Regions from separate parts of the Homo sapiens genome. Here region 2 is linked to region 1. Evidence: fine-mapped expression QTL. A gene starts in region 1. The other region holds a variant in brackets. All regions are shown on one strand. Distances are from middle to middle.

Region 1 (16,417 bases):
GGGAAACAAATCAAGGAACACAGAAAAATCAGGAGTCATTGTTTGGCTTCAAATTGTAACATTTTATCCTATGGTACTAGACATTTGAATAGGAACTGTTTTAATTAAATGGAATTTAATATTATTTGCTGATTCAGCTAATTTGCCTTGTTCTCCAAAAGAGACTAGTATCTATAGCACTAGCCTCACAAATAGAGATATAGGTTAAATGTCTCTTGGATTAATGAGACATACTGGATCATCAGGTCTTCCTTCTGAGTAGATTTAACATGTTTCCGATTTTGATTAATGTGCCAGCTGCATGTTTCATTCGTTCAATGAATATTTGAGCTCCAGCTATGAGTCTGACATTGAGGTATGTGCCAGATTTTTTATTTGGGCCAGCACAGCTCTATCATACCAGCTAATATGTTCTTCACATCCCCTCAAAATATCTGGTTTGGTCATAAATACAGTAGAGCTTCAGTCTTCAGATCCCCTCAGAATATCTGGTTTGGTTATAAGTACCATAGAGCTGAGACCGTATATCTGAACAAATGATTTAGTCTTGGGTGGAGGCCTTGTAAATATTAAGATAAATCTTACCCAGTTTGCCAGGGAGGAGATTTCTATCATAAGAACAGTGAACTCCTGGGGGTTGACAAGGGGATAAGGAGCATATTTGATACACTTCTTGTTTTGCTAAAATTCTTTTGCTGCAGCAGCTAGAAATGTAAAAGTCTCAAAATTGTGAACGAGGATTAACTACTATTCTGAAATTGATCTCTCTTGCTATGTAATAACAGCTCCGGAAACCAACACGTGAAGATCCTCACCAGCGGGACCCTAAGCTGCCAAATTCCCAGAGAGAAATTAAGTCATTGTGAGGCTCACTGCTGAGAGAGTGTCAGCCACGAGCAATAGATCACTAGTGTTACTAATAGGCTCCTCACCAACACAGCTGCCTGGAATTGGCAAGTCGAGCTCTTCTGGGATCAGCCAAAGAGGACACCTGGGCTCCTCCCCATGTAGGTGGTTTTGTGGCCCTACTTGCATCCAAACAGCCCTTAATACACACAAAATTGTCGGAGTGTTTTTTGCTTTTTCCAGATAAAGGGAATTGGAGGGTAACCTGTGGTTCTAAACATGCAGTTAAGAAAGAATGGTAGAATGGTTTTACTTGCCGGAATTAAGGTGGTGAAGTTCTGTTAGAAGTAAGGTTACTGCCCAGTCGCACAGGGTGAGAACTGCAGATGGCTCACCCAGAGAACCAACCATTAACGTTCTGGTATTGCCCTGGTCTACGCGCTGCAGTCTGATTTTCCTAGGAAAGTTCTTGCATTTTGGCTATAGTTTCAAGTAACCTAAAACTGGCTTCATTTAAGGTGTTAGCTAGCTGCCAAGCCTTAGCCATTTTTTCCATGCTTGCTTGCTTCCCTTATCACCCTGAGGGGATGCCATTTTTAACACCTTGTGGTGTTAACCTTTTGATGAAGAGGCCCCTATCTCCTGTGATGAGAACCTTCCAGGAAGTGAGACAGACTCTGATGCTTATTATAAGGCAGGAGCCTACTCTGCCTCCAGAGTATACCCAGATGCCTCTCTAAATGTGTTCCATGAATACTTAGTTAAGGCAGACATGTGATGACTAAAATTCATGATACTGGGAATTTGGAGAGGAGATGGAAATAACATGGAAGTATTGACAGTTTGAGGTAGAGCACTTAGAAAGTTTCATATGTTGGCTGAGTGGTTATTACACAAGCGTGTGCCTTTGTTCCATGTTTACTTGATTCGGCCAGAAAGCACATTTCCCAAAAGCAAATCCAATACAACTTTGCGCATAATTCTCACTGTCTTAAGTAGGAGCTGGGATGGATGCATTAACCCTTCAAACAATTGCTGCCTATTCCATACCTAAGTGGCTTTGGCTTGGAGATGGCAATATTTCTGCTCCTCATGTCCTGTGTCTCTCTCTGCCCCCAACTTTGTTCTCCTTGTTCTTGGCTCCACAGTTAAGAGACCACAGACCAAATTAGGCTCTGGCTTAATTTGCTGCTTGTTGAGCGCTTCTGAGTCAGGCTCTTTGTTTCCTCTAGGATGGTTTCTTTGCTGTTTAGTAGGTACTGTTTCGTGTTCTTTTATTTCTCAATAAGAGGGCTCTGGTTAGTGGCTGCTATGTGGCTTCTGGAAAATATACAACTCTTGGAGCTCTATTAAGCATCCTCCTTTTTGTCTGTTCCTTTCGTGTGTGCTTTACCTTTCATCATTTGAGGGACTGGATCAAAATATTAGTTGGGATTCTAGAGTTAGGAACTGTTGTACCCATCACCCTTTATAGGTCAGGAAACTGAGCAATCAAAAGTTAAGTTTCTTTTCTGTGTTACAAAGCCAGTAGGCAGGAGCCCCCTAATCTGAAGCCACAGTCACTTTACTACAATGGGTGCCTCTGGGTGATGCATGTCACCGAGTACGGATGTCTCCATTTATCCCTGAGTGAAATTCAGTCACCTCTGTGTTTACACTCTCAGTTTACACTAAGACTCTGTGTTTATACCTCTTGTGTTTACAACTGAGACACACGGGACAGCGCAACTTGAGAATTAACATCATAGAAGGTGTCAACTGAAGAATGAGAAAGTTCATGAATTTGGAAAGGAGAGCTTTATTTTTCATAAAGCGTGGCCACTGGCAGGGTAGCCATTGCTACAGTCTGGAAAGTGTAGCCTCCAGCCAGAAACCAGAAACACACTTCCAGGTTGGGAAAAATAAGACAGGAATTTATGCTGAGTGGAGTGGCCAAATACACAGTAAACTATAGGAGGAGTCATGAATATTTATGAAAGATGTACATGTGCAATTAAGCTTCATGACTCTTGATGGGTTACATGTACAAAAAAATGGTATTAGCATGATTCTGGGGTGGAGTTTTTGGCCCTCTTGGGTCAAAAGGTGAAGCAGAGGACACAACTCTCATGGTACATCTTCTATAGACTAGCCAGAGCCACTCCATGGTCCATTGTCTCTTAGGAAGGAATGCTGGTTGCTTGGTTTGTTGAAACCTTAAAAGGAAGGGGCAGCATCAAGTGGTTGGTTCATATCAATAGTAGAGGCCAGGTGCAGTGGCTCACACCTGCAGTCCCAGCACTGTGAGGATTCCTTGAGTTTGAGGAGTTCAAGACCAGCTTGGGCAACAGAGCAACACCTCATCTCTACCCAGAACAAAAAAACCACCAGTGCAATGGTACGTGGCTGTAATCCCAGCTACTCTGGAGGCTGAGGTAAGAGGACTGCTTGAGCCCAGGAGGTCAAGGCTGTGGTGAGCTATGATTGTGCCACTATACTTCAGCCTGGGGGATACAGTGAGACCCTCAAAGATAGCAGGGGTGGAGCAAGTCTTTCCCAAAGGGCTGGTTTCTGTTTAACCCTTAAGAAAGAAGGCTGGGTACTGTGGCTCATGCCTGTGACCCCAGCACTTTGGGAGGGTGAGATGGACAGATTGCTTGAGCCCAGGAGCTCAAGACCAGCCTGGGCAACACAAGGAAACCTCATCTCTACCAAAAAAAAAAAAAAAAAAAAAAAAAACCTGGTGTGGTGGCACGTACCTGTAGTTCTAACTACTCGGGAGGCTGAGATGGGAGGATTAATGGAGCCCAGGAGGTCGAGGCAGGTCTTGAGCCAAGGTCACACCACTGTACTCCAGGCTGGGCAACAGAGCAAGCCCCTTTCTCCAAAAAAAAAAAAAAAACTAATGGCTGATAGTGAAGGAGCAGGTATAACAAGCTGTTTCCCGTCTCCCTTCCAGTCATATATGGGAACTCCGCTTTTAAGATTTCTCTGGATAATTTAAGGTCAGGAGTTCGAGACCACCCTGGCCAACATGGTGAAACCCCATCTTTACTAAAAATACGAAAATTAGCCGGGCCTGGTGGTGGGCGCCTGTAATCCCAGTCACTTGGGAGGCTGAGGCATGAAAATCGTTTGAACCTGGGAGGCGGAGGTTGCAGTAAGCTGAGATCCAGCCACTGCACTCCAGCCTGGGCAGTAAAGCGAGACTCAGTCTCAAAAATATTTCTCTGGGGTCCCCTTGGACAAGAGGGGGTCCTTTCAGTCAGTGGAGGACATGGGGTTTTATTTCTGAGGGCATTTACTGTGTGCAAGTTACCAGGCATTGGGCTGCAAAGATGAATAAGGCAAGCTCCTGGGAAGCAAGAAGCTTACATGCCCCTTAGAATGATTGTAATTCATAATAACTTTATTTTTTAAATCCTTGTAAATCTTCACAAAGGAAGGGATGTCATGGATGACAAAAGTAGCTACCCAGCTTTCTGCATAAAAAGCCTCCACCCCTGCTGGTCACCCACTCAGCACTCAGCACTCACCAGGGCCTGCACCACCTGCCTTCCCTCCTGCCCAAGTGCACACCCCGGACAGACTGATTATACATTGATGTGAAGAAGTCTGAAGCAACAGGTATCTTCACTGTATTTATGCTTTCAGTTCTTCATAATCACAGAATGAAAATGTGAAATACCTCCCCCCCCCCCGCCCCCAATTAAAGACATGCCAAATACTTCAGGAACAACCAGGATTGAAATTTGGCTTCTCCAAGGTAAGCCTGATAAGGTCAAAGTATGCTGGTACCTGTTAAACAGCATAAGGGGTACAGGGAGAGGGTTGTCAAAGGTAGAATTTCCACTTTCTTGAGGACCTGGGGTCTGCCCTTGTTGGACATCTCTGGAGCAGCACAGGCCACTCACCCCATTTGACTATACAGCACTTAAAAATGTGGCGAGTCCAAATTGAGATGTGCTTGTGAGTATAGAATACAACAGGATTGGCCAGGCGTGGTGGCTCACGCCTATGATCCCAGCATTTTGGGAGGCTGAGGCGGGTGGATTACCTGAGGTCAGGAGTTTGAGACCAGCCTGGCCAACATGGCAAAACCCTGTCTTTACTAAAAATACAAAAATTAGCCGGGCATGGTGGTGTGCACCTGTGATCCCAGCTACTCGGGAGGCTGAGGCAGGAGAACCATTTGAACCTGGGAGGCAGAGGTTGCAGTGAGCCAAGATCATGCCATTGCACTCCAGCCTGGGCAACAGAGTGAGACTCTGTCTCAAACAAAAAAAAAAAAAAAAAAAACAAAAAAACAGGACTTTGAAGACAGCATAAAACATCTTTATTGATTACATGTTGAGATAATGTTCCGGATGTTTAGGTTAATACTGAAATCCAGCTTGCTGTTTCTTTTCACTTTTTATTAAATGTGACCACTAGAACATTTAAAATTACACACGTGGCTTGGTCAGTATTTCTCTGGGGCAATGCTGATCTAGAGGCAGAGACCATCCCTCCCCAGCAGTTAGACCTCAAGACTAACTGCTGTCCCCTGTGGGGATGATGTGGTGGTACATTATGTCTGCTGCTCTGGTGTGGCCCTGTTTTTATTTTTGGGTGCTCAGTAAATGTTACTGGGAGAAATGAATTACAGGAAAAATGAGTCCTTTCCTAGCCTCCTTCAATGAGGTTTGCAACATTAAAGTCACCACGGGCCACTTTCACTGGAAGCTGTCAGTGTCGGAGGTTTGGAAATTAACTGAGAACTACAGACAGGAAAGGTGTAAAGCAAATTATTTTCCTATCAGATTGACATTTACAAGAATAATGGGAAGGAGCATGGAAAAGAGGAAGCAGGTCAACCTTCCTTGAGGACAATTAGATAATAGGCATCAAAAGTCTTAAGTTGTATAAAACCTGTATCCTAGAAATTTACCTTTTCGTAGTTTATTCTAAGGAATTAATTGGACAAAAGCACAAAGACATCTAATTGTATTATTAAAATGGAAAGTTTAATATTCAACAATAGCAGATAGGTTAAGTACATTAGGACATTATGAAGTGGCTTAAAACGGACATTCAAAAAAAGGAAATGGAAAACCTGAGTAATGTACAGCTTGTATGGAATGAACTAAAAATATATAAATTTTTGCATAGGTAGAATGACATTGGAAGAACATACACCACAATGTTAACTGATTATCTCTGGGTGTTGGAAAATGATTGATTTATCAACTTTTTTACTGTTATTTCTTTTCTTTTTTTTTTTTTTGCAATGAACAGGCATGCTCTGGCAGTTTTTAAATGAAGTATGGAAATTATGGATTGTGCAGTCATAGTCAACGTTCATTGAGAGCTTACTTTATATAAAGCATCATGCTCAGCATTGTGCTTTGTGGCATTTGATTTTTTAAAAATCAAACGCCCTCCAATCTTAAGCAAGGATGATGGCCAAAAGGTCGGCTTATTACCCAACTGCAACAATAGGAGGGACAGGTAATTAAAAGGCAATTGCCATGACAAATAGAAAAGATGCCAAAGTCAACATTTTTTCAAGGAGCTATAAAGCCCGTGGAGGAGTCAGCTGACGGCACAGTGTTCGCGGCTGCACCGCTCGGAGGCTGGGTGACCCGCGTAGAAGTGAAGTACTTTTTTATTTGCAGACCTGGGCCGATGCCGCTTTAAAAAACGCGAGGGGCTCTATGCACCTCCCTGGCGGTAGTTCCTCCGACCTCAGCCGGGTCGGGTCGTGCCGCCCTCTCCCAGGAGAGACAAACAGGTGTCCCACGTGGCAGCCGCGCCCCGGGCGCCCCTCCTGTGATCCCGTAGCGCCCCCTGGCCCGAGCCGCGCCCGGGTCTGTGAGTAGAGCCGCCCGGGCACCGAGCGCTGGTCGCCGCTCTCCTTCCGGTGAGTCCCAGCCCCGAGTTGGCTCTGGCGCCCGGGTACCCGCCAGTGCCGGCTGCCGATGACCGATTCACGCTCCCGGTACTGGGGCCCCCTCTGCCCAGCCACCCCTACCCAGAGCACCCGGGCTGCGCGGCCCCGCCGAGGGTGCGGGCTTTGTTCGCATTGTCTGCGCGCACCTGAGCGCGGCCTTCCTGGCACGGCGGCGTCGGGGGAAGAGCGCACCTGGCGCGCGCCTCCCTCGTGGCCACTCGCGGTCCGTCCCGGGCGAGCTGGCGGGGTTTTGGGAGGGGTGCGGTCAGCAGGTAAGTGGGTAGGGGCTCCGGGTACAGGGGTGGAGGAGGGCATGTATTAAACCCAAGCTGCCCTCCTGGCACAGTAGCGGGGCCCCCTTCCCTGGCGGCCGCGGAAAGGGACTCGCCCTTTGAATAAAGGCTTTGGTGACATGCTCGCTTCCACCCCACACCCCACTACAGGACATACACAGGTGTTAAGGGGACTTGGGGCAGTTTTCCCAGGCAGAACGAGTGCCCCCAGCGAAGTGTCTGCAAGCAGAACCTGAGAGGGGCCGGCTGCCCCGAGAGTCCTCGCGCTTGGGCAGTGGGAAGTCCAGGGGTTTGTCGTTCTGGTGACTTCCCCCACCTGGCTCAGCCCTGCTTCCTGCATGTCTCCTTCCCTTCCAATAAGGCTAACAAAACTTTCCCTAGCTAAGCCGACCTTTCCCTCCCGCCTTGGGCCCTTGGCCACCTGCTGGGACGGTGAATGGGAGAGTCTCAGAATTGAACCTTGAAAACTTGCTGGGGGCACCAGACAGAAGAGAAGGGAGGAGGGCACCTTGCTGCTTGTGATTGTGGAATCAAGGGCTCCAGCTGAAGCTGAAAGGGGACTTAGCAATGGGGACCTCATGCCATGTGTTTGATGTCTTGGAGATTGGAATAATTAGAACGTGTACATTTTTCAAATTACAAGCTGCTTTAAGTAAAACCCCAGAACCTCTAAGTGTTTTATAAATTCAGTCCCAAAAATTCAAGGTCTCTTTTGCTGTTAAGGTGACACTATATTAAGAAATGTCGATTTATTGAAGAGTCAGAGAAGTGAAGAGGTCAGAAAGGTACCACTAGAGTTGGCAAAAGCCACAGGCATGAATTTGTAAATGCTGCTGGCTTTCAGCAGGCTGAAGCCATCCTCTCTTGTGACTGATGGGGGTTCAGAGCTCCTCAGGCCTTACTCTTCTTTTGTAAAATCCAGCCCAGAGCCATCTCCTAGTAGTGTAAGAATTTCTCAGACTAGGTCCCCAGGCAAATCCCAGGTTGGAGAAGAGGATTGCTTTCCTCATCATCTCTGGCTGAAAACCATCAGTGTATTTTCATTAAATCTGGTTTTTGGTCTACCGTACAGAGATTACAGCCAGTATTTCCCCTCTCTTCAATAGGCACAAGCCCCTGGGATATCCGAATCATAGTCAGAAGCCCATGTTTTTACAGATGAGGAAACTGAGACCCAGTTTTAGAGTGTTAGGTTCAAAGCAAAATTGAGCAGAAGGTACAGGTTTCCCATATACCTCCTGTCCCCGCCTATGCACAGACTCCCCCATTGTCAGCATCCCCCACTGCAGTGGTACATTTGTTCCAACTGATGAACCGACACTGGCACATCATTATGACCCAAAGTTCACAGTTTGCCCTGGGGTTTGCTCCTGTTGTACATTCTATGGCTTTGGACAAATGTAAAATGACATAAATCTGCCATTATAGTATCAAACAGCATAGTTTCACTACCGTAAAAATCTTCTGTGCATCCCACCCTCCCTACAACACATGGTAATCACTGATCTTTCTACTGTCTCAATAGTTTTACCTTTTCCAGAATGTCTTATGATTGGAATCATGTAGTACGTAGCTTTCTCAGATTGGTGTCTTTCGCTCGGTAATATACACTGACATTTCCCCTCCTGGCTTTTTAATGAGCATCATAAAAACAGAATAGTTATTTGGCAGTGACGGCATCATAAGCTTGTGGTGAAAATGCCTTTTTTGTTAATAACTCCCCTGATGTGTGTGCATCTTACAAAGCATTGTCCTCACATCCTCAGTACCTGGAAGGGTACCGGGCACAGGGCAGATGCTTAATAATTTTTACTGGGTAAATGAAATTTCATGTAATTATAGCAATGAGAGGGTCAGCAACACTACGAGGTTGTTTTAGAACAGTGGTCCTCAAACTTTTGCAGTGCATATATCAGTAAATGAAAACCTAGTTTAATTGGGAGGCCTGCAATAGAATTGCTCATTTTTAATTTTATCCAATAAGGCTATTTTAAAACAAATCCCACCCCCCTCCCTATCATCAAGGAGGCTATTGGAAGTCTGTTGGTGATTGTGTGTGTGCATTCCCTGCAAAATGTTTCTGTATAACCCCAAGGCAGCACAGTGGGACAGCTGAATGTATTTGAAGTCCCTTCCTTTGTGTGACCTTTCGTCTTCTAAACAGCTCTGGACTGCTTAATTTTCCTCTTCCACCTACCACATTAGCTGCTGACTTTCCTTGAATGTGATTACTACCCTCGGTCCTCCCCTTCCTTTTCCTGATCATGAGTCTCTTCTCTTGAACTAGATTTCCCTGGTCTCAAATTAGGAAACTTTGCCCTTGCCCCGGGAGCCTTTGCATCGTGGTTTCATGGGGTCCTGGCGACAACCTTTCCAGGGAAATAGGATGGATGGTGTTACCTCCGTTTTAGAGAGAAGGAAATTGAGAGACTGAAGTGGAGGAATTTACCCAGGAGGCTCATGCTCAGGTATCCTGCCATCAGATGGTTGCTCTTTCCAGAGCATCTGTGTACCGCATGCCTCATAGTACCAGGTGCATCTGCATGCCGATGCCTCTGTGTACCACGTGCCTCTGTGTACCAGTGCCTCTGCATACCGCAGTGCCCCTGTGTACCAGTAAATCTGTGTATCAGTGCCTCTGCATACCAGTGCATCTGTGTACTGTGTGCCTCTGCGTACTGGTGCCTCTGTGTACCGCATGTCTCTGTGTACCACGTGCCTCTGTGTACCAGTGCATCTGTGTACCGCGTACTTCTGGTCATAGCTGAGAAGTCCTGGGCTGGACTCTAAGCTGGGTTTTTCTCGCTCTGTGGCCTTGGGTCTCGTCTTCTCCAAGATCATTTCTTCATCTATAAAGATGTAAATGATAATATCTACCCTACAGATTATGGGTGTTGTTAAATGAAATGAATATATTAAATGTAATGATAAACTTTTAACATCATTCATTTAGAAAACATTTTACTATTTAGCAGAGACTTTTCTACCCTGTCTCACTGGATCTTTACAACACTGGGGGAGTTTATGAAACAGATTCTCCCCATTTGGCAGATGAGGAACTAAGGCAGGGGAGGTTGTTGCTTGCAGTCACCCAGCTGCTAGGAGCAGAGCTAGGTTGGAATCCTGTCTCTGGACTTTGGGTCCTGTGTGTGTTCTCCCACACCTCAGGGCTAATCCCAGTGTCCCATACAGTGAAATCGGGTTGTGTACAATTTAAAGCATTTTCAGATATCATCCATCAAAACAAACATGAACTCTCTTCTGGCTAAAAATGTGTCTGCAGATGCAGAAAGTATGGGAGGGCTTGTGATCTATGCCCATCTTCCCAGCTTTTCTCCCTAACCCTCCAGGGAGTTCACAAATGGCATGTTGCTTATTTCTTGGTGCGGACTTTTGGTTGTTAGGCCACTGGGTTCTGAAAATTTACTAATTATTTTAGGGGGAGCGTGACTTTCCCCAGGCAGCTTTTTAAATGCTCTCTCTGCCATATCAAACTAGAAATGTGTCATCTACCTCCGTTGACACTCTGAGCCTGAGCCAAATATTTTACCAAAGGTTACAAGGAAGATGATTGTTCCAGCAAGGACTTCCCCACCGGATATTTTTACCTCTGATTTTAGTCTTCCCATTCAGGTGTGTACTGTTCTGGTAAAGGGCTCAGATTTCCATCCTGCTGATTTGGAGGAGGCTGCCAACGGCTAATCTATTTGGGGTTGGAATTGCATTTTGTAAGGAGGTAGAAATGGTTTCCTCTTTTTCCCTACACTCATTTCATTTCCGATGGTAGAGAAGGCAGACATTATCCTGCAAAACTGCCTTCAGCGATCCCCAATCCGGCTCTTCTTTTTTTAAAAAGTAGCTTTGTTTTGGCTTTTATTTCTTCCTGTGTCACGGAAAATGTAATTCCTGGGTAGTGCACAGTGGAAATTTTTGTGGCATCCTGCAGCAGACTTCACATGCCTGCTGTCCCAAGTGCAGCTGGTGCTGCGTGGGAACCAGGATCCGAAGGCCACACTCTGTTGAGGAGATCAGGGGCGTGGAGAGCATCTACATCCATGGATGAGAACTCCAGAAGCCAGGAATAACAAGTGGGATTAGCATGAGTAATGGAACAGAAGGGAACAAGGTGATGAGCGAGGTGTAACGGAAAAGGCTTGGTGAGGCATACCTGAGAATGGGTGGTCTGTTCCAGCCCCTGGCTTGCAGATCACTCCCAACTACTTTGTAGGAAGCCAGAGGGCCCTGGTAAATCTCATCTTGTGCCGGATGGAGTGTGAGAGCTGCTGGCAGGTATTAGCTGGGGGAGAAATTGCCAACGTGCAGGATTCAGGGTGGCAGATTTTTTAAATTATGCTTCTGTGCTTCTGAACTGCCTCTAGTTCATAGCCTGTTTTCTGGAGCCTGGACTTCTGCCAGAGTGTCACCTCTTACCGGCAGCCCCAACACCTCTCCCTTGTTGAACATCCTGTGGCAGCTTCCCCCAGAACCGGGAAGGTGACGCTAGGAGGCCAGAATGGAATCTGATCCACTGATTAGCTGTGTAAGCTGGGGCAGAACACTTCACTTCTCCATGTCTCAGCTTCCTCACCTGTGAAATGGGAATAGTACACCCTCCCTGGCTGGCTGCGAGGATTAGGAGAGAAGACATGAAGGGCGGAGCCTGTGTGTCTTGTGGCAGGCACATAAGAAATGCTCATTACATGGTAGTAGCTGTTGATTTTTATTGTGGAATTCACCCTTTAAAAAAAAAGCTTTCCAGGTGTAGGGCTGTATTTTGGAGGTCAAATTAGTATTGTAGGAAAATTTTGATATGAGAGGGGAATGAGCTGCCTATTCGAGATGACTGGATGGGAATAGAGTGCAAACAATACTTCAACATCATCGCAATAGCGTTCATTTCATTAATCTTGGTATAAAAAAGAATGCAGTGAACACAGTGAGTGCAATGATGCCCTGAAAGGGTCCCTCTAGCCCTCCCACAGGAGGTATTCTGGTGCTTTGTTTATCTAGCAAGCAAGGACCTCCCCTACTATACATCAGGCACATGCAGGTCTCTGGAGCTCCAGCAGAGACTAGATAGTCTGTAGTCTCAGGCATTTGCCGCCTGGCAGTCAAGACAAACGTATCACTGGGCAGTTTCAGCGTGGGCTGTGTGACAGTAGGGATTGTATTGAGGGGGACAGGGGAGGGAGGTGCTGCAGAAGTTGCAGAGCCAACACCGTCTGATTGATCCAAACAGCTAGGAGAAGGCATTTGACATCCTGTGTGCATTTGCAGATTGCCAACATACATTCTATTTTAATGAGCAGAAACTTGGGCGCCTCTGGAAAAACATGCAGCTGGGCAAGCAGAGGCACATAGTGGATCGAGATCAAGCTGCTTAAGTTGGTCTCATAGCACGGAGGGAAGGGGACTGTGTTTACTGGGTGCCTTCCTATGTGGCAGGAACCTTCTGTACTTCCTTCCACTTTATCCTCACAGCAGCCTGGGGAGGTGGCTGCCAGAATCCTTGTTTTATAAATAATTAACAGGCCTGAGCCTCAGTCTCCTGCCAGTGCCCAGGGTCAGAAGCTGTAACTCCGTAAAATCGTCCTGAACCTAAGGAATAGAGACAGCATTGAGAAGCTCTTCACCGCATCCTCAATGCCTCGCCATTGCCTGACTCACAGGCGGCAGGTGGGGGCTTGTTCTGCCTCTGTGGTGTGGAGTAAGAGGGAAAAAAAAAATGTCCTTAGGGGAAAATGAGTCTTTCTTGCTGGCATGCACAGGGCTGGAAGCTAGCAGGAAGTATGTGCTGCAGGCCAGTATCCTTCTCACCACCTTTCTCCCTTTGATCGTGTCTGTAGAGCTCCTGACATACTGGCTCTTGCCATGTTAGGTGTCTGATTTTCACTTAGATCAGGAGAAGACTTGAGCCTCTTAGTCATTTGAAGCAGGAAGACCCTGCACGAAGACTCTCAGCTGGCAGGGACATTTGTTTTATAATAGTTTGTTTTAGGACTGCTTTGAAATCCAAGGAGCTCTATAGACAGTTCCAAGTGGTGCATATTTTAGAATTAGGTAGAATCTGGTGGCATCATGGAAATAACCACACAGTCTGAGAATATTGGGTGGTCAGTACATGCTCCATCCTCCAGGAGGACCACTCTCTGTGGCACCCTGGACTACCTGCCCCCGCCCCCCGCCCAAGATGATTGGAGGTCAGATGCATGGTGAGAAGGTAGATCTCTGGAGCCTTGGTGTTCTTTGCTATGAATTTTTAGTTGGGAAGCCTCCTTTTGAGGCAAACGTACACCAAGAGACCTACAAAAGAATATCACGGGTTGGGCTGGGCATGGTGGCTCACGCCTGTAATCCCAGCACTTCGGGAGGCCGAGGCGGTCGTATCACCTGAGGTCAGGAGTTCAAGACCAGCCTGATCAACATGGTGAAACCCCGTCTCTACTAAAAATACAAAAATTAGCTGGGCGTGGTGGCGCATGCCTGTAATCCCAGCTACTCAGAAGGCTGAGACAGGAGAATCGCTTGAACCCGGGAGGCAGAGGTAGCAGTGAGCCAAGACCATGCCATTGCATTCCAGCCTGGGCAACAAGAGTGAAAGAAACTCCATCTCAAAAAAAAAAAAAAAAAAAACGAGTATCATGGGTTGAATTCACATTCCCTGACTGTAACAGAGGGACCCAGGACCTCATTTTAAGACTGTTGAAGCATAATCCCAGCCAGAGGCCAATGCTCAGAGAAGTACTTGAACACCCCTGGATCACAGCAAATTCATCAAAACCATTAAATTCCCAAAACAAAGAATCAACTAGCAAACAGTCTTAGGAATCGTGCAGGGGGAGAAATCCTTGAACCAGGGCTGCTGTATAACCTTTCAGGAACATGCTACTAAAATTTATTTTACCATTGACTGCTGCCCTCAATCTAGAGCGCTACAAGAAATATTTGTTTTACTGAGCACCTGGCAATGCCTGAACCTCCCTATTCAGAAAGCTCCACATCAATAAACATGACACTCTGAAGTGAAAGTAGCCACAAGAATTGTGCTACTTATACTGGTTCGTAATCTGGAGGCAAGGTTCCGCTGCAGCTGCCCCCTCAGCCTGGGCCAGGCATGGTTTCTTCCCAGGAGACAAATCCAGAGTGTGGCTGTGGGGAAAGTGACCACTTTGCCCTGACTCGATCGGTTAAGGAGCTGTGCAATAACCTTCCCAGTACCTGAGTGAGTGTGTCACTTATTGGGTTGGCCAAGCCTAGTAAAGCTGTTGGAATGAGGATGTGATTCTTTTTAAGTGTGAAAAAAAAAAAAAAGATTTCTGTACAGATTTGTATTTGTTCTCTGGTGGCATTCCCTTAGAAATGCTCTGTGTCTGTCCAGCACCCCGGTAGGCCTGGTTGGGTTTCTAGTCATCTTTAACCACTTATCTCCCATATGAGAGTGTATAAAATAGGAACACATGCTCTACCTCCATTTAGGGACTTGCAACCTCTGCATCCCAGGTTCAAGTGATTCTCCTGCCTCAGCCTCCTGAGTAGCTGGAATTATAGGTGCCCACCACCATGTCTGGCTAATTTTTTGTATTTTCAGTAGAGACACTGTTTCACCGTGTTGGCCAGGCTGGTCGTGAACTCCTGAACTCAGGTGATCCACCTGCCTCGGCCTCCCAAAGTGCTGGGATTACAGACAAGAGCCACCGCGAAGGGCTTATTTTTTAAAAAACACTGGAGTCATGGCATGTGTGTAAACTTTAAATATGCAAATAACTATGTCAAAAAAAAAAACAAAACGGAGCTGGATGTATCTTGAGGTCCAAACATCATAGGTCCATGATGGAGGCAGGAGTCCAATGGGACTTTTAAAACCATAAAACAGCTTAGCCACATCAGGGCCCTTCTCTTCACTTTGTAAGGGAGGAACCACAGCCTCTCCCAAGGTCACAGGGCACCAGGATGAGGATGAGGGCCCCTGGGTTCATGTAGGCTCTCTGCCACCATGGGGCAGGTGTGGCTCCTGCATGGGTGGTGAAGTTTTTTTTTAAAAAAACTTCTCAAAAAATAATTTTTCTCAGCCAAGTGTGGTGGCATGTACCTGTAGTCCCAGCTACTCGGGAGGCTGAGGCACAAAAATCACTTGAACCCCGGGAGGCGGAGGTTGCAGTGAGCCAAGATCGTGCCACTGCATTCCAGCCTGGGCTACAGAATAAGACTCCATCTCAAAAAAAAAAAAAAAAGTCCTCTTCCTTCAGCCGGATTACGATTTATAAATAATTTAGATGATTAGTGGATAATTTAGATAGTGCAGGCTTTCTTCAGATGTTGTCTTCTTAGCTAGGGGAAGGTTTGTTAACCACATTAGAAGGTTTCAGAAGATGAGGACATTGAAAATCAGATCTTCAGCCTGTTGAATTCTAACTCCTCATGAAGAAATGGAGACCCTGAGAAAGAAGTGACTTTGCCCAGGGTCACGTGGCTAGTCAGGGCCCAGGCAGAGCCAACACCCGGGCCTCTTAACTCTGGGGAGAGCAGGAGAGCACACCTTCCCAGGGCCCGTGGAGGGCTGGGGTGCATTTGGGGGTGGATGAGAGAGGTATCCTGGGGAAGATGTTAGCTTGGTGTCTAAAACCAAAGTAATTGGAGTAAAGTCTTCCATGACTTGGGAATTGGGGACTTTTCTAGTTATTGTGGTGAGGGCCTCCAGGGTCATATCTGTGACCTGGAAAAGGCTGAGTTGGCATCTTGTTTGGCGGTGTGACTTGGGGCGTTCACAGAACTAATTGCTGATACTTTCTTTCTTTTCCTGTGTCCCTGTAGTTATATCAACATGCCCCCTTTCCTGTTGCTGGAAGCCGTCTGTGTTTTCCTGTTTTCCAGAGGTAAGATGTGTTTATTGGTGGTGGGGAAGTACTGGCGTGTTGAGTAGGGGGGTTGCTTGCTTCAAATCCTGTTGATTTTCAATTCTAAAGGTCTCTTGAATCCACCTGCATCTCCCCTCCATGGCCACCTCCCTAGTCCAAGCCATGTCATCTTGTGCTTGGACCACTGCAGTAGCCTCCTGCCTGGCCTCCCTGGGTCCCCCGGTCCTCCTCCAACCCATTCTCCATGCAGTGGCTATTTCTTTTTTTATTTTTAAGTTCCAGGGTACATGTGCACGATGTGCAGGTTCGTTACATAGGTAAATGTGTGCCATGGTGTGTGCCATGATGGTTTGCTGCACCTATCAACCCATCACTTAGGTATTGAGCCCAGCAGGCATTAGCTATTTATCCTGATGCTCTCCCTCCCCACCCCACCACTCGACAGGCCCCAGTGTGTGTTGTTTCCATCCCCATGTCCATATGTTCTCATTGTTCAGCTCCCACTTATTTTA
Region 2 (12,880 bases), 52 kb after region 1:
CTTAATCACGATTTTATTGTTGTTGTTACTAAGAGCTCTGAATCTACTAAGCAGGCTCCAGAGCAGCAGCTTCCCAGCTCCTTTGATGGCAATCCACAGAAAAGTGTGTTCCTGGTGCACACATGCACATGTATGCACACATACACACACGGATGCATGTGCATGCACACGCGCTGGTGCAGCCACACACAACTGAAACAAACGCTTCCTGAGAGGATACTTACCCTGTCTACTTGGGATGCATTCTGACATTTTTCTCTTCTGTTCTGTTTTGCAAGCCATGAAGCTGATTTTTTATGACCCCTATTGGAAGGCACTCTAGAGAACACTGTCCCCACGCAGAGGCCTGGCCCATGGCCAGAGATGTAGTAGCTGAAACACGTCTTTTTTTTCTTTTGAGACAGGGTCTTGCTCTGTTACCCAGGCTGGAATGCAGTGGCACGATCATAGCTCACTGCAGCCTTGAACTCCTGGGCTCACGTGATCCTTCCACCTCAGCCTCCAGAATAGCCAGGACTACAGGTGCACACCACCATGCCCAGCTAATTGTTTTATTTTTTAGAGAGATGTGGTCTTGCTATGTTGCCCAGGCTGGTCTCGAACTCCTGGGCTCAAGCAATCCACCCACCTCAGCCTCCCAAAGTGGAGGGATTACAGGCTTGAGTGAAATGTAAGCCTTTATAGGGCTCCTGGAGTTCTCCCCTTGGTAGGTGGGCATGGGAAGCTACAGATGTGATTCTGCTTCTCAGCCCTGATGCCACCACTCTCCCCAAGGCGAGAGGCTTTCCCTCCTGTAAGGCGGAAGGACAGGGATTGGCTGCCCACTCCCACCCTGCCCCTCCAGGCTGGTCTAAGTGCTTTTGTTCTGCTGCTTTGTTTGGTTGGATTTTTTAAAAAAAATAATAGTTGTAGATTTATAGGAAAAAATAATTGACAATAGTGGAGAGTTCCCTATACCCCACACCCAGTTTCCCCTCCTATTAACACCTTGCATTAGTATGGCACAGTGTTATCATTAATGAACCAGTATTGATACATCATTATTTAGTGAATCCATGCTTATTTATATTTGTTTAGTTTTTACCTAATGTCTTTTTTGTGTTCCAGAATCCCATCCAGGACCCCACAGTACATGTAGTCAGCCGCCTTCCCCGTAGCTGTGATAGTTTCTCAGACGTTCCTGGTGTGGGAGTGGTTTTAAAAACCAGTAATCAGAGCATCAGCTCCTCTAACTCCATACTTAGAATTTCCAGTGGTTCCCCTTTGCACTTGGAATAAAACCCAAACTCCTTCCCCTGGCTTCTGAGAGCTCCCTGTGGCCTGGTCCCCACAGGCCTCTCTGCATCCCCTGCACAGGAGAGGCCTTCTGGCTCATACTTACTTGTCTTTCAGTTCTTAGGTGAAATGTCACCTCCCCAGAGAAGCTCTGACCCCTTCTCCCAGTCTTGTTATGTTCCCCTACTGGTCTCTCTCGAAGTCCCCTGCTTTTCCCTCCACGCTGCCGACATCATTTGTAATTCTATGTTCATTTCATGTCTGTTCCCCTAGACTGTCAGCCTGTTGACAGCAGGCATGGGCCCATTTTGTCCATACAGCATCTAATTAGTGCCCTGCATACTGGGGATGGATGAAGGCACAGGTGAAGATGTTGTCACAAAGGGTTGCCCACAAACCCAAACCCCATGGGTTACATAAGACAGGAACTTATTTCTCTCACATACAGTTCAGAGGTGAGTGGCCCGGGCCAGCAGGGCTTGGTCATCTTATGGCTTCCACCTTGAGGTCCAAGGTCACCATTTCTCAGCCAGCAGGAAGGGGGAGAGGGGAAGTGGAAGGTAAGCAGCTTCCAGCTGCATGAGTTTGAAATTGATCACGTCCGTCAGATAGAACTTAGACACGTGGCCACCCTAGCTGCCAGGAAGTCTGGGAAATGTGGTCTGGCAGGCACTCATCTTCCTGCTAATATTCTAGGAAAGTGCTGTTCTGTGGCTAAAAGGAAGACATAGAGGGTGTATTCTGCAGTGAACAGAGCACCCTGGCTGACCTTGGTCCTACCCAACCTGGCAGTCCCTGGGTCCCGTCGAGGGGCTCTGACTGGCACATCCACTGCTGAAGCCCCTCTGCTTGCTCCTGCAGGGTGCCGGACACAAGCCCTGGACCTCGTCTTCATGTTGGACACCTCTGCCTCAGTAGGGCCCGAGAATTTTGCTCAGATGCAGAGCTTTGTGAGAAGCTGTGCCCTCCAGTTTGAGGTGAACCCTGACGTGACACAGGTCGGCCTGGTGGTGTATGGCAGCCAGGTGCAGACTGCCTTCGGGCTGGACACCAAACCCACCCGGGCTGCGATGCTGCGGGCCATTAGCCAGGCCCCCTACCTAGGTGGGGTGGGCTCAGCCGGCACCGCCCTGCTGCACATCTATGACAAAGTGATGACCGTCCAGAGGGGTGCCCGGCCTGGTGTCCCCAAAGCTGTGGTGGTGCTCACAGGCGGGAGAGGCGCAGAGGATGCAGCCGTTCCTGCCCAGAAGCTGAGGAACAATGGCATCTCTGTCTTGGTCGTGGGCGTGGGGCCTGTCCTAAGTGAGGGTCTGCGGAGGCTTGCAGGTCCCCGGGATTCCCTGATCCACGTGGCAGCTTACGCCGACCTGCGGTACCACCAGGACGTGCTCATTGAGTGGCTGTGTGGAGGTGAGTGGGGGAATCCACACCCTCAGGGCTGCCCCCATGGCAGGCCCTCAGCCTGAGCCTTCACATACATCATGACGAGGATGGCAGCTCTTCCCAGCTACTGAGCACTTGCTTCCCAAGTGCCAGGTTCTGTGCTAAACCCCATGCTCACATAAAATCCTACAGTAGGCATAACCATCCTATTTGACATTTAAGGTACAGAAAGTTTAACTAACATAGATAACTCCCCCCAAACTTGAGAATTTATGCATTCCCTTTAAACAGAACACACTTTTAGAATATCCACAAGCTTCCTAAGGGTCTAAAGATCCCACATTCACACTGACTTGGGCAGTGACAGAGCCCAGAGCAAACAGGGCCAGGCCAGCCCAAATCCAGTGACCTCCTCTTCACCTTCTTAAAAGAGACAGGAGAATCACTTGAACCCGGGAGGTGGAGGTTGTGGTGAGCCAAGATCGCGCCATTGTACTCCAGCCTGGGCAACAAGAGCAAGATTCTGCCTCAAAAAAAAAAAAAAAAAAGTCTGCCATGTGTATGGCACGTCTGAGCAATGGACTCTCCATGAGTCTGTAGGAGAGCTGGGTCTTACTAACCTAGCCAAGTGGTATGCAGCACCAACCATGAGCTACCGGGGCAAAGGGAGACATGACTCTAGTAGCCTTGCACCTCTACTGGGCTTACTTAGGGTAGGGGTCTTCGGGTCTAACCCATGCCTGGCCGGCCTGGTGGGTATGGTGTTCTCCATTGTAGAAGCCAAGCAGCCAGTCAACCTCTGCAAACCCAGCCCGTGCATGAATGAGGGCAGCTGCGTCCTGCAGAATGGGAGCTACCGCTGCAAGTGTCGGGATGGCTGGGAGGGCCCCCACTGCGAGAACCGTGAGTGGAGCTCTTGCTCTGTATGTGTGAGCCAGGGATGGTATTGCGAGTCCTGCCAAGTCCCACAAACTCAGCTGAAGGCAGGTTCTAAAACATTCGTTCAGTGGAAGAAATTATTCAGTCGTTTACCCACGAAACATTTAGTGAGTACCTCCTGCATCCCAGGCATTGTTCTCAGTGCAGGAACATAGCAGTAAACAAATGAATAAAACCTCTGCCCTCATGGAGCTTCCATTCTAATGGGAAGACAGACAATAAGCAAATAATACAACATGTGGTGTGGTAGACGGTGCTAAGCACCCCGGAGAAAGTCATGACAACTAGGAGGGAGGCCACAGTTAGGAGCACAGTAGATCCAGGGTACAGGGATGTAGACGGAGGCAGGGATGGGTAAATGCGGTGGTGGGAGCTGCTGGAAGCTCTTTTTGGGGTGCTATTTGCTCAGTAAAATGGGAGGAACAGCTAAGTGAGGACGAGGAGGAGGTGCTAGAGGTTTGAGAGAAAAGAAGTCATTGTCAAGGGTAACAGATTAGGACCTAGAGAGTGATCGTTGGGAGGCATTAGAGGTCCAACTATGGCTCCTGTTCATGAGTTTGAAGTTAGAACAGCCAGAAATCAGAAGACAAGTCCAGTCGGAGCCTTGGTTTTTTGGCCACGGGCAGAGGTTGGCTTCCTAAGGCCAGAGAGAAGCTCTGGAGGATAATCACATGGGGTCTCTAATCTGGCATCTTCTGCTGGGGGCGAGGTGGGTTGTAGAGTAAGAGCAGGACCTGAAGGGGTCCTCAGAGGCTGCTGGAGGGCTGAGAAGGGGATGCAGACACTCCTGTCCTCAGACTTCACTTCCTTCCCCAGGATTCTTGAGACGCCCCTGAGGCACATGGCTCCCGTGCAGGAGGGCAGCAGCCGTACCCCTCCCAGCAACTACAGAGAAGGCCTGGGCACTGAAATGGTGCCTACCTTCTGGAATGTCTGTGCCCCAGGTCCTTAGAATGTCTGCTTCCCGCCGTGGCCAGGACCACTATTCTCACTGAGGGAGGAGGATGTCCCAACTGCAGCCATGCTGCTTAGAGACAAGAAAGCAGCTGATGTCACCCACAAACGATGTTGTTGAAAAGTTTTGATGTGTAAGTAAATACCCACTTTCTGTACCTGCTGTGCCTTGTTGAGGCTATGTCATCTGCCACCTTTCCCTTGAGGATAAACAAGGGGTCCTGAAGACTTAAATTTAGCGGCCTGACGTTCCTTTGCACACAATCAATGCTCGCCAGAATGTTGTTGACACAGTAATGCCCAGCAGAGGCCTTTACTAGAGCATCCTTTGGACGGCGAAGGCCACGGCCTTTCAAGATGGAAAGCAGCAGCTTTTCCACTTCCCCAGAGACATTCTGGATGCATTTGCATTGAGTCTGAAAGGGGGCTTGAGGGACGTTTGTGACTTCTGGCGACTGCCTTTTGTGTGTGGAAGAGACTTGGAAAGGTCTCAGACTGAAATGTGACCAATTAACCAGCTTGTTTGATGATGGGGGAGGGGCTGAGTGTGCAATGGGCCCAGGTCTGGAGGGGCCACGTAAAATCGTTCTGAGTCGTGAGCAGTGTCCACCTGAAGGGTCTTCCTTTCAAAAGAGGCTGCGGCCAGAGACTGTGGCTCATGCCTGTAATCCCAGCACTTTGGAGGCTGAGGCAGGTGGATCACCCGAGGTCAGGAGTTTGAGACCAGCCTGGCCAACGTGGTGAAAGTTTGTCTTTACTAAAAATACAAAAGGTAGCCGGGGGTGGTGGTGGATGCCTATAATCCCAGCTACTCGGGAGGCTGAGACAGGAGAATGGCTTGAACCTGGGAGGCGGAAGTTACAGTGAGCCGAGATCTCACCACTGCACTCCAGCCTGGGCAACAAGAGTAAAAATCTGTCTCAAAAAGAAAAAAATGTACTTAGGAGGGGTTAATTGTGGCGTGTTTATGGAATTCTTTCCTTATTCTCCTTTTAGTGGGGCAAAGAGAAGTAAGATTCTTAAACTCAAAAATATAGGATAAAGAAACTTACAGAGATTTTGCTTTTTAAAGCATTGATCTTACGCTGTCTAGGTTTTAATTTTGTTTTGCTTTGCTTTTCTACACAGTTTTTAAAGAAATATTTCAAGAAATGTTGGTTATTTATTAAACAGGGATATTTGTACCTATGTGGCAAAGAGGCATATTTGGAATATTCTCTGGCAAACTAGATACTTACTTCCCTATCGCTGCAGTATTTAGGAATTACTTCTTCTCCTTGGTTGTGTTGTTTAGAGTTGGATTTTCTGTAGAAATCTTTCTAGAGCTCTGATGTGACTCCAGACACTTTATCGTTTTTCTTTTTTTTGAGACGGAGTTTTGCTCTTGTTGCCCAGGCTAGAGTGCAGTGGTACAATCTTGGCTCACTGCAACCTTTGCCTCCCAGGTTGAAGTGATTCTCATGCCTCAGCCTCTTGAGTAGCTGGGATTAGAGGCAGGTGCCACCATGCCTAGCTAATTTTTGTATTTTTAGTTAGAGACAGGGTTTCACCATGTTGGCCAGGCTAGTCTCGAACTTCTGACCTCAGGTGATCCCCCTGCCTTGGCCTCCCAAAGTTCTGGGATTACAGGGGTGAACCACTGTGCCTGGCCCATTTTTCTTTATAAATATTGTAACATAATGTTTTATAGACAAACATTCAAGGGTACTTTGGCTTTAAGAACTTCAGGATTTCTGGTGCTAGAAAAGCGCTTGAAGCAGTATCACCAAGATTTTAGATATTAAAAAGTCTGGTGTACCAGACATTGAGTCATAATCATCTATATTCAAGGGATACTTTCATTGATAACTTTGTTATTATGCTGCCCTTCACAGAAGACAACGTCCGGGGCAGGATCACATGCTCCCTAGCAGATGCTGATCAGTGATGTCATAGAAATTACATGAATGCATTGTCTTTAAATAGCAGTTTAACCATGTTATAATGTAGGCTTTTTGTCTTGTTCCGGGCTGGTATTTGGGTGCCCTGATTGAATTACTTGGATTTAAACAGCAAACTGTGGGCTCTCGACTTACATAGTAAGGGCCTTTACTGTTTCTTTGTAGGAAATGGGTTTCTCGCCTTTGAAACATTTTTTCCCCTTTTGTAGTGACAGTGCCACTAAATAGTTCAGCTTTTGTCAGTCCCCCAGGAAAGTGCTATCCTATGGCCTAACTAGCCAAGCCTTTTTTCTTTCATTTAAAAGAAATTAGCTTTAATTTTTACCTTTAATTACTTATTCAAATAAGACAGAAATATATTTTCCTTGCAATAATTAAAACATTGCATATAGGCCATAAATTTCCTTATTTTCTCTGAACGATCCTGATTCCAGTCATCTTGTTGAATACCCTAGTTCTAATAATTGACTCTTGCTTTTCTAGAGAAATATTTCCAAATGATGCTAGTTTTGTCTCTTCCTTTCAAAGTTGTATACCACTTCTTTTTCTTGTCATTTTGCATTGCCTGGGACCTCCAGAATAATGTTTCATGAAGTAGCATGTATCCATATCTGGTTCTTGACTTTTTCATCATAATAATTGTTTTCTATGGGTTACTTATCAGTTTAAGAATGCTTAATTCCTAGATGAACTAAGAGTGTTTATTACATGTTGAGATTTATGGTATGCTTTTTCTTCCTCAAGATAATGCATTTTTTGTATTATCTGTTAATGTGATAGGTTATCCATTTGTGTATTTTCAATCATTGAACAACCCTTGATTTTTTTGGATAAACTCTATTTGGTCATTATGCATCATTCTATAAACCCTGCTGAATTTTTCATTTGCCAACATCTTATTTCAGATTCTTTTAATCTGTGTCCAACAATGAGATTTGTTTTCTTTTGCAATTTGTTTTGAATTTTTGGTATCAGAGCTATACTAACCTTATAATGGAAAATACATATTTCTCAAACTTTTACACTGATATATTCATAGTATTTTTTTATAATTTGAAAAATCTTGTCAGTATCTGTATTAAGGCCTCCATTTCAGTTCTGCTATTTCATATTGCCTTAGGTTGTCTATTTGTCTCTTTAATGAACCCGATTTTGATTTTGTCATTTTTAAAATAAACACATTTATGCTATAAACTTCCTTAATTACTACTTAGGCAACCTTCCCAGTATTGGTATGTTTCTTTTTTCCCAAGAATTCTTTAGGAGTATATTTAACTTCTGGGAGGAGTACTGATTTTTCATTCACTTATATATGATCAATTTCTGCAGATGTTTCCTGTGTCTTTGGTATGTTGTTAACTGTACAACTAAAATTTGCTTTCAGCCTTATCTATGCTCTTTGATTCAAGGAGGCTGAGTTTCCTGCTAGGATCCCATCTTGTAGTTCAGTGTGTAAATAACCAAAACATTTCCTCCCTTGAGAACCCCCCAGGCCCTGCCCCAAGTCATTTCATGAACTGAGGAAAACTTCAAATACAATGAACATTTTATTTTAAAAAA[CCTAA/C]CTAACTCACCACTTGGTAAAAGGTCACCAAATGTTTATGAGAGAGGAAATAAGAATAAAAAAGACATTTAGTTCTCAGGAACAAGTGTTAGAGAACTGATACACAACCCTCCAGAAATGAGGCAGAGATAATAGATGAAATGTTTCAACCTGTGTTAAAAAAAAAAAAAAAAAAATGCCATCAGAGGAAAAGACAGGGGCAGCACAAGGAACAGCACTGCCAATTTTAAGAGGGCGATCACCCTAACCAAAAATCACCACTTTGTTCTTGGAAGGAGAATGAACATTAAACAGAACTTAAAATCAGAGACTATTTATATTAAATAACTCTTCCCTTAAAAATGGCCTGACCACAGCAATGAATCTGTAAACACAGAGTAATATTTTTCCTACAGTAAAGAGTCACTTTAATCTCAAAAGATACTTTTCACTGTTCTAAATGACAGGATTTTAAGCATTTTTTCCTATATATAATACAGCATCACTTAAAATTTTATTTAAAGACAGTTGATTCAGGCCTGCCTTGGACTGGAAAGAAGTCTTTAACTTAGTGGGATTAGTGCTTCAGCTTGGTCCCAAATATTTTCCCCATTATTGTTTCTCAAAACTCATGTCATAGATGGTTTTACAGATGATGGTTTTACAGATGATGTCAATGCTGTTTAAAATCACTGAAGACTGAGTTGGGCCTGGTAATATTGGAGAGAACTGAAGGCAAGGATGGTTTAATCCCCAACTGCTAAGTATTGGATAAGAGATGATGGCCAGGAGTTTAGGTCTTCTCACTCACCAAAGACACGTGACCCATAAGACAGGGCCCTGCTTCCTTGATTCATCTTCCACCAAAGTCTAAACAGGAGGTTTTCACTATTTAAAAATCTTAGTAAAGCAATTGATGACAACTTCAAAAAAGAAAGAAACACAGAACATCCCTAAATACAACGTCTTGTTTACATCCAATAGACTTAGGTCTCCAAAGAAGCCTCCTTTTTGTTGTATTATTTCCTTTGGCTCTGAAAAGGGACAGAGCCTCCTCTTAGCTGAAGCTCTCCATTCACAGTACCTCAGTCTTTGCTTTTTCTTCTAAACAGACTCACCCTTTCGCATAGTTTTTGCTTTAACAAAGCAGGATTGTCACCAAGGTCCACATTGACATGAGAGTCTTTAGATGAAGCTTGTTTTCTAACTTGCTCCTTTCTTCTCCCATTCCTAGGGTACCATTCAAATACCAGCACCCACCCCCCACCAAAAAGATAGTTAGTTATCCACTGTAGCAACCTTGATATACATAGAAAAAATGTGAGAAAAACTATTTTAGGCACAGAGGTGATAAATGTTTCAAACCCTGTGTGTTCATCACTGCTTAGAGTGCCTATTCAGAGATTTTGAGACTGTGGCACAACAGCGAGTGCCTATAAGTGATGTCTCTCACAGCAACAAGGGAGTGGAGGTTCAGATGCTTGCATGGATTTATTGGTTAGCCATTGTTGTGGGACCTCCAAATATCTCCAGCAGGTAAGGAGGATAGGAATAAGGAGCAGAATTTGCCAAAAGCAAAGGCAGCCCTAGGCATGTTCTTTAGTGTACAAATGAGTAAATGAGTAAATGATTAATGATACTTTTTTGACTAGCCATCAGGGAGAAACCGCATCATAGCATGGATTCCTCATTCACAACTTGCTGAGAATTTTGCCAGTAGTTGGGTGGGCAACTTTGGGCAATTCAAACCACCTATGTGAGTCTGTTTCTTTAGTTTTAATGGTAGAAGTCCTGTGGAGTCACTGACTGACTTTTTGGTTTGAAAACTCAGTCATAATCTGTCCCTGAGCTGCAGCTGGCCTCCTGGAATCTACCCATAGCTGTGTGGAGGGCAAGAACTGAAGCATCCCCAAGCTCACAGGGAAGGATGCTCGAACCAAGTGCAGACACCTTTCTGGTTGGTCAGTGCCAGAGACTGAGCTGAAGGCATGGCAAAGCCATGGCCACTCCTTGGTGAGTGCCGAGCCCTTGCTCAGAGCTGGTGCCAAAAGCCACAAAGCACCACCTGGGTCAGAAGATGGGCCCCTACCTTAGTGACATTTCTGCTGGCCCCAAGGGAGGCTGGGAGTGACTGCTTACCTTGGCTTTCTGGAGTACAGTGCCTTTGCCTGTGACCACGACCGAGAGAGGCCTGTTCTTGAGTGTGGTTGCAGAGTTGACTGGGGTACAGTCTGGGGCAGAGGCAGGTGTGACAGCTTTGGGCTGTGGTTATAGGAGGAGAGCAAGGGCTGAGTCAAGGGGAGGGAGATGTGACCCACCCACCCCAACCCATGTCCAGGGAGCCCTGCAAGCAGCCCAGAGGCCGCAGTTCCAGCACTCACGCGGGGGCTCACATTCTCCAGGTGGGTGGTGTCCACGGTGGTGCCTAACGTCACAGGCCCTGCCTCAGCCTTCTTCAGGTTGTCCTTCACCTCCATGATGCTGAGCTCCAGGTCCACGCGCCTGCTCTCCTCGCCCCGGCACTCCTCGTCAATTTCCTTCAGCTTCTGCTCCAGGCTCGCCAGGACTTCCTTGTCTGGAGAGAGAATTATGCAGGTGTCAGAGAACAGCATCTCAGCCCAGGCCAGGGAGCCCTGCTGGGTGGAGGCAGGGTCTACATACCCCGCCACCCGAGAAGGACCACAGGTCTGGCCCCAACACTCAGAGCCAGGAGGGGCCTGTATGCCGGGGCAGCCTGGAGGCCTCCTTTAGCTAGCATTCTGCAAAGGCTGGGAGGCTCTTGGGGAGGAGAGCTCTGGCTTCACTAAGGGGCATGAGTCTGAGGCCTTAAGTCCCTTCTTGTAGGTTCTCAGAGACTCTTGGTTGCTTTGACAGTGACCCAAAAGGGTGAGGGGCTTTATTCATGGCCCATGGAGGAGGGCTGGGCAGCTTGACCTGCCCTACCAAGTTCCCTCAATCCTCTGGCTTCCCTACGCCTAACAGAGCAGGAGTCCTCAGCCCTGGCTCCTCCTGTTAACCCTGGACCTCTTGGGTTGATGCTGCCACACCGTGAAATGATGCCTAGGGCCTGTATCCTAGAAGCTCACTGCTGGAGGAAAGGATGGTATCACATATGTACCACATAGAGTCCTGAGCACAGGGCCACTGTTTAAGAAAAATTCACAGATGCTATTGAAGGACCATCTCTAAAGAGGGAAGGAAAAGAAAACGTATACTAATAATGTTTTGAAGATTGGAGTTTAAAAAAATACAGTTCAAGCTGGGTGCGGTGGTTCACGCCTGTAATCCCAGTACTTTGGGAGGCTGAGGCAGGCAGATCACTTAAGGCCAGGAGTTCGAGACCATCCTGGCCAACATGGTGAAATCCCATCTCTACTAAAAATACAAAAATTAGCTGGACATGGTGGCGGATGCCTGTAATCCCAGCTACTCAGGAGGCTGAGACAGGAGAATCGCTTGAACCCAGGAGGCAGAGGTTGCAGTGACCCAAGATCACGCCACTGCACTCCAGCCTGGGCAACAGAGCAAGACTGTCTCAAAAAAAGAAAGCCAGTGGGTGACTTTGCACCCTCAAGACCTTCCCTCACCAGTCAGCTGAGTTTGTCCTCAAACCTGCACCGCTGCTCTTGCTTATTCATACACCTCTACAATTTAAATAAGCACAAAGTTACTCCATGAAAACTAAGTCAAATACTTTGGAAAGGTTCTAGAAGAGGCAGGTTGCAGCTGGGCATGGTGGCTCACGCTCACACCTGTAATCCCAGCACTTTGGGAGGCCAAGGCAGGTGTCCCTTGGGCTCAGGAGCTCTAGACCAGCCTGGGCAACATTGCAAGACCCCATCTCAATATTTTTTTAATTTTGAAATTTTAAATGCAGCAGATTGCCAGGAAATAGCTGTCAAATGATACGAGTGTGATTTGGAAGATAATCTAGAAAGACTTCTTGGCAAGTATCTTAAGTTTTTGTTGACTTTCAAGAAATGAAGGCTGGAAATGAAGGCTGATGCATTAACAGGTGTAGTTAATGCATGAAGGATGACATGAGACTCCAGTCAGCCAACCAGAGCTCAAAAAATCTGCAGTGCCAGGTCCTCAAAAGATGGGCCAAGGAATATGCATTTAAGTGACAATAAAACACGGCCTATGCATAACCCTGTAAAACTTCCTTTAACTAGCTTTTACGATGACCTGCTGGTCCTATTGATGTTCCGTCAGAGGCTTTCTCTCTCTGTCCAGGAGAATGACCTTTCAGACAGGATTGGAAGAAAGGACACACAAGGGAGCACCCACCCAGGCCAAGGGTTGAAGGGGCCAGGGCCCACTGATTGAGAAGGTGTGGTGACAGCCAGATCTTCCGCCAAAAAGTTAAGCCTACACGGCCCTCTGAGCTGAGGGTCCCTCCCCACTGGGGGCCCCCTTACCTGTGCATTTCAGTAGGGTTTCCTTTAGCTCCCGTTTCTCTTTCCGGAGCTGAGCCAGGTGCCCCCGGATTTCTTCCTTCTTCTTTTCAAGCCTCTCCTTCTCCTCTGTGTACCGCTTCACCTCAGCTTCTGTCCGATTCTTGCCAAGCTTGATCTCTACAGACCCAGAGAGGGAAGCCCCAGGTAAGCAGAGCTGGATCATGAGGGCTGTCCCCAGTCTACTCCCCAGGCTCGGATAGAACCTGGGGCTTTGGCACAAAGCCCTGCTAGGCTGGATGCCAGACCTGGACAGGTCCCTCTACCTCTCTGAACTTGTTTCCTAATCTGAAAACGATGGTGTGATGGTTAATATTGAATGTCAACTTGATTGGATTGAAGGATGCAAAGTATTGTTGCTGGGTGTGTCTGTGAGCGTGTTGCCA

Which allele goes with the higher level. Alleles are on the strand shown, and positions count from the first base shown. SD is a standard deviation of normalised expression in the study named.
As copies of C replace CCTAA in region 2, the expression in tibial nerve of the gene that starts at base 6,412 in region 1 goes down (moderate effect, 0.49 SD a copy in GTEx).

The links.
Region 2: its variant is fine-mapped to the expression of VWA2 in tibial nerve (GTEx, PIP above 0.99). The same link has a PIP of 0.9 or more in cerebellar hemisphere, cerebellum, esophagus muscle, sigmoid colon, spleen and thyroid.

Annotation. Positions count from the first base shown.
Region 1 is chr10:114,232,843-114,249,259 of GRCh38, forward strand. It overlaps VWA2 (von Willebrand factor A domain containing 2), which reads left to right and starts at 6,412. Exons shown (of 14, transcript NM_001272046.2): 1 at 6,412-6,727; 2 at 15,862-15,923. The coding sequence starts at 15,872. It also overlaps the pseudogene AURKAP2. RefSeq lists an enhancer at 6,323-7,031.
Region 2 is chr10:114,286,802-114,299,681 of GRCh38, forward strand. It overlaps VWA2 (von Willebrand factor A domain containing 2), which reads left to right. Exons shown (of 14, transcript NM_001272046.2): 12 at 2,137-2,688; 13 at 3,439-3,564; 14 at 4,417-7,688. The coding sequence ends at 4,436. AFAP1L2 (actin filament associated protein 1 like 2) reads right to left here. Exons shown (of 19, transcript NM_001001936.3): 16 at 12,459-12,614; 17 at 10,419-10,612; 18 at 10,177-10,299; 19 at 8,023-9,267. The coding sequence ends at 9,241. Among named protein-coding and RNA genes, the nearest start is that of VWA2, 54 kb to the left of the region's middle. The variant CCTAA/C (reference allele first, on the strand shown) is at 8,055.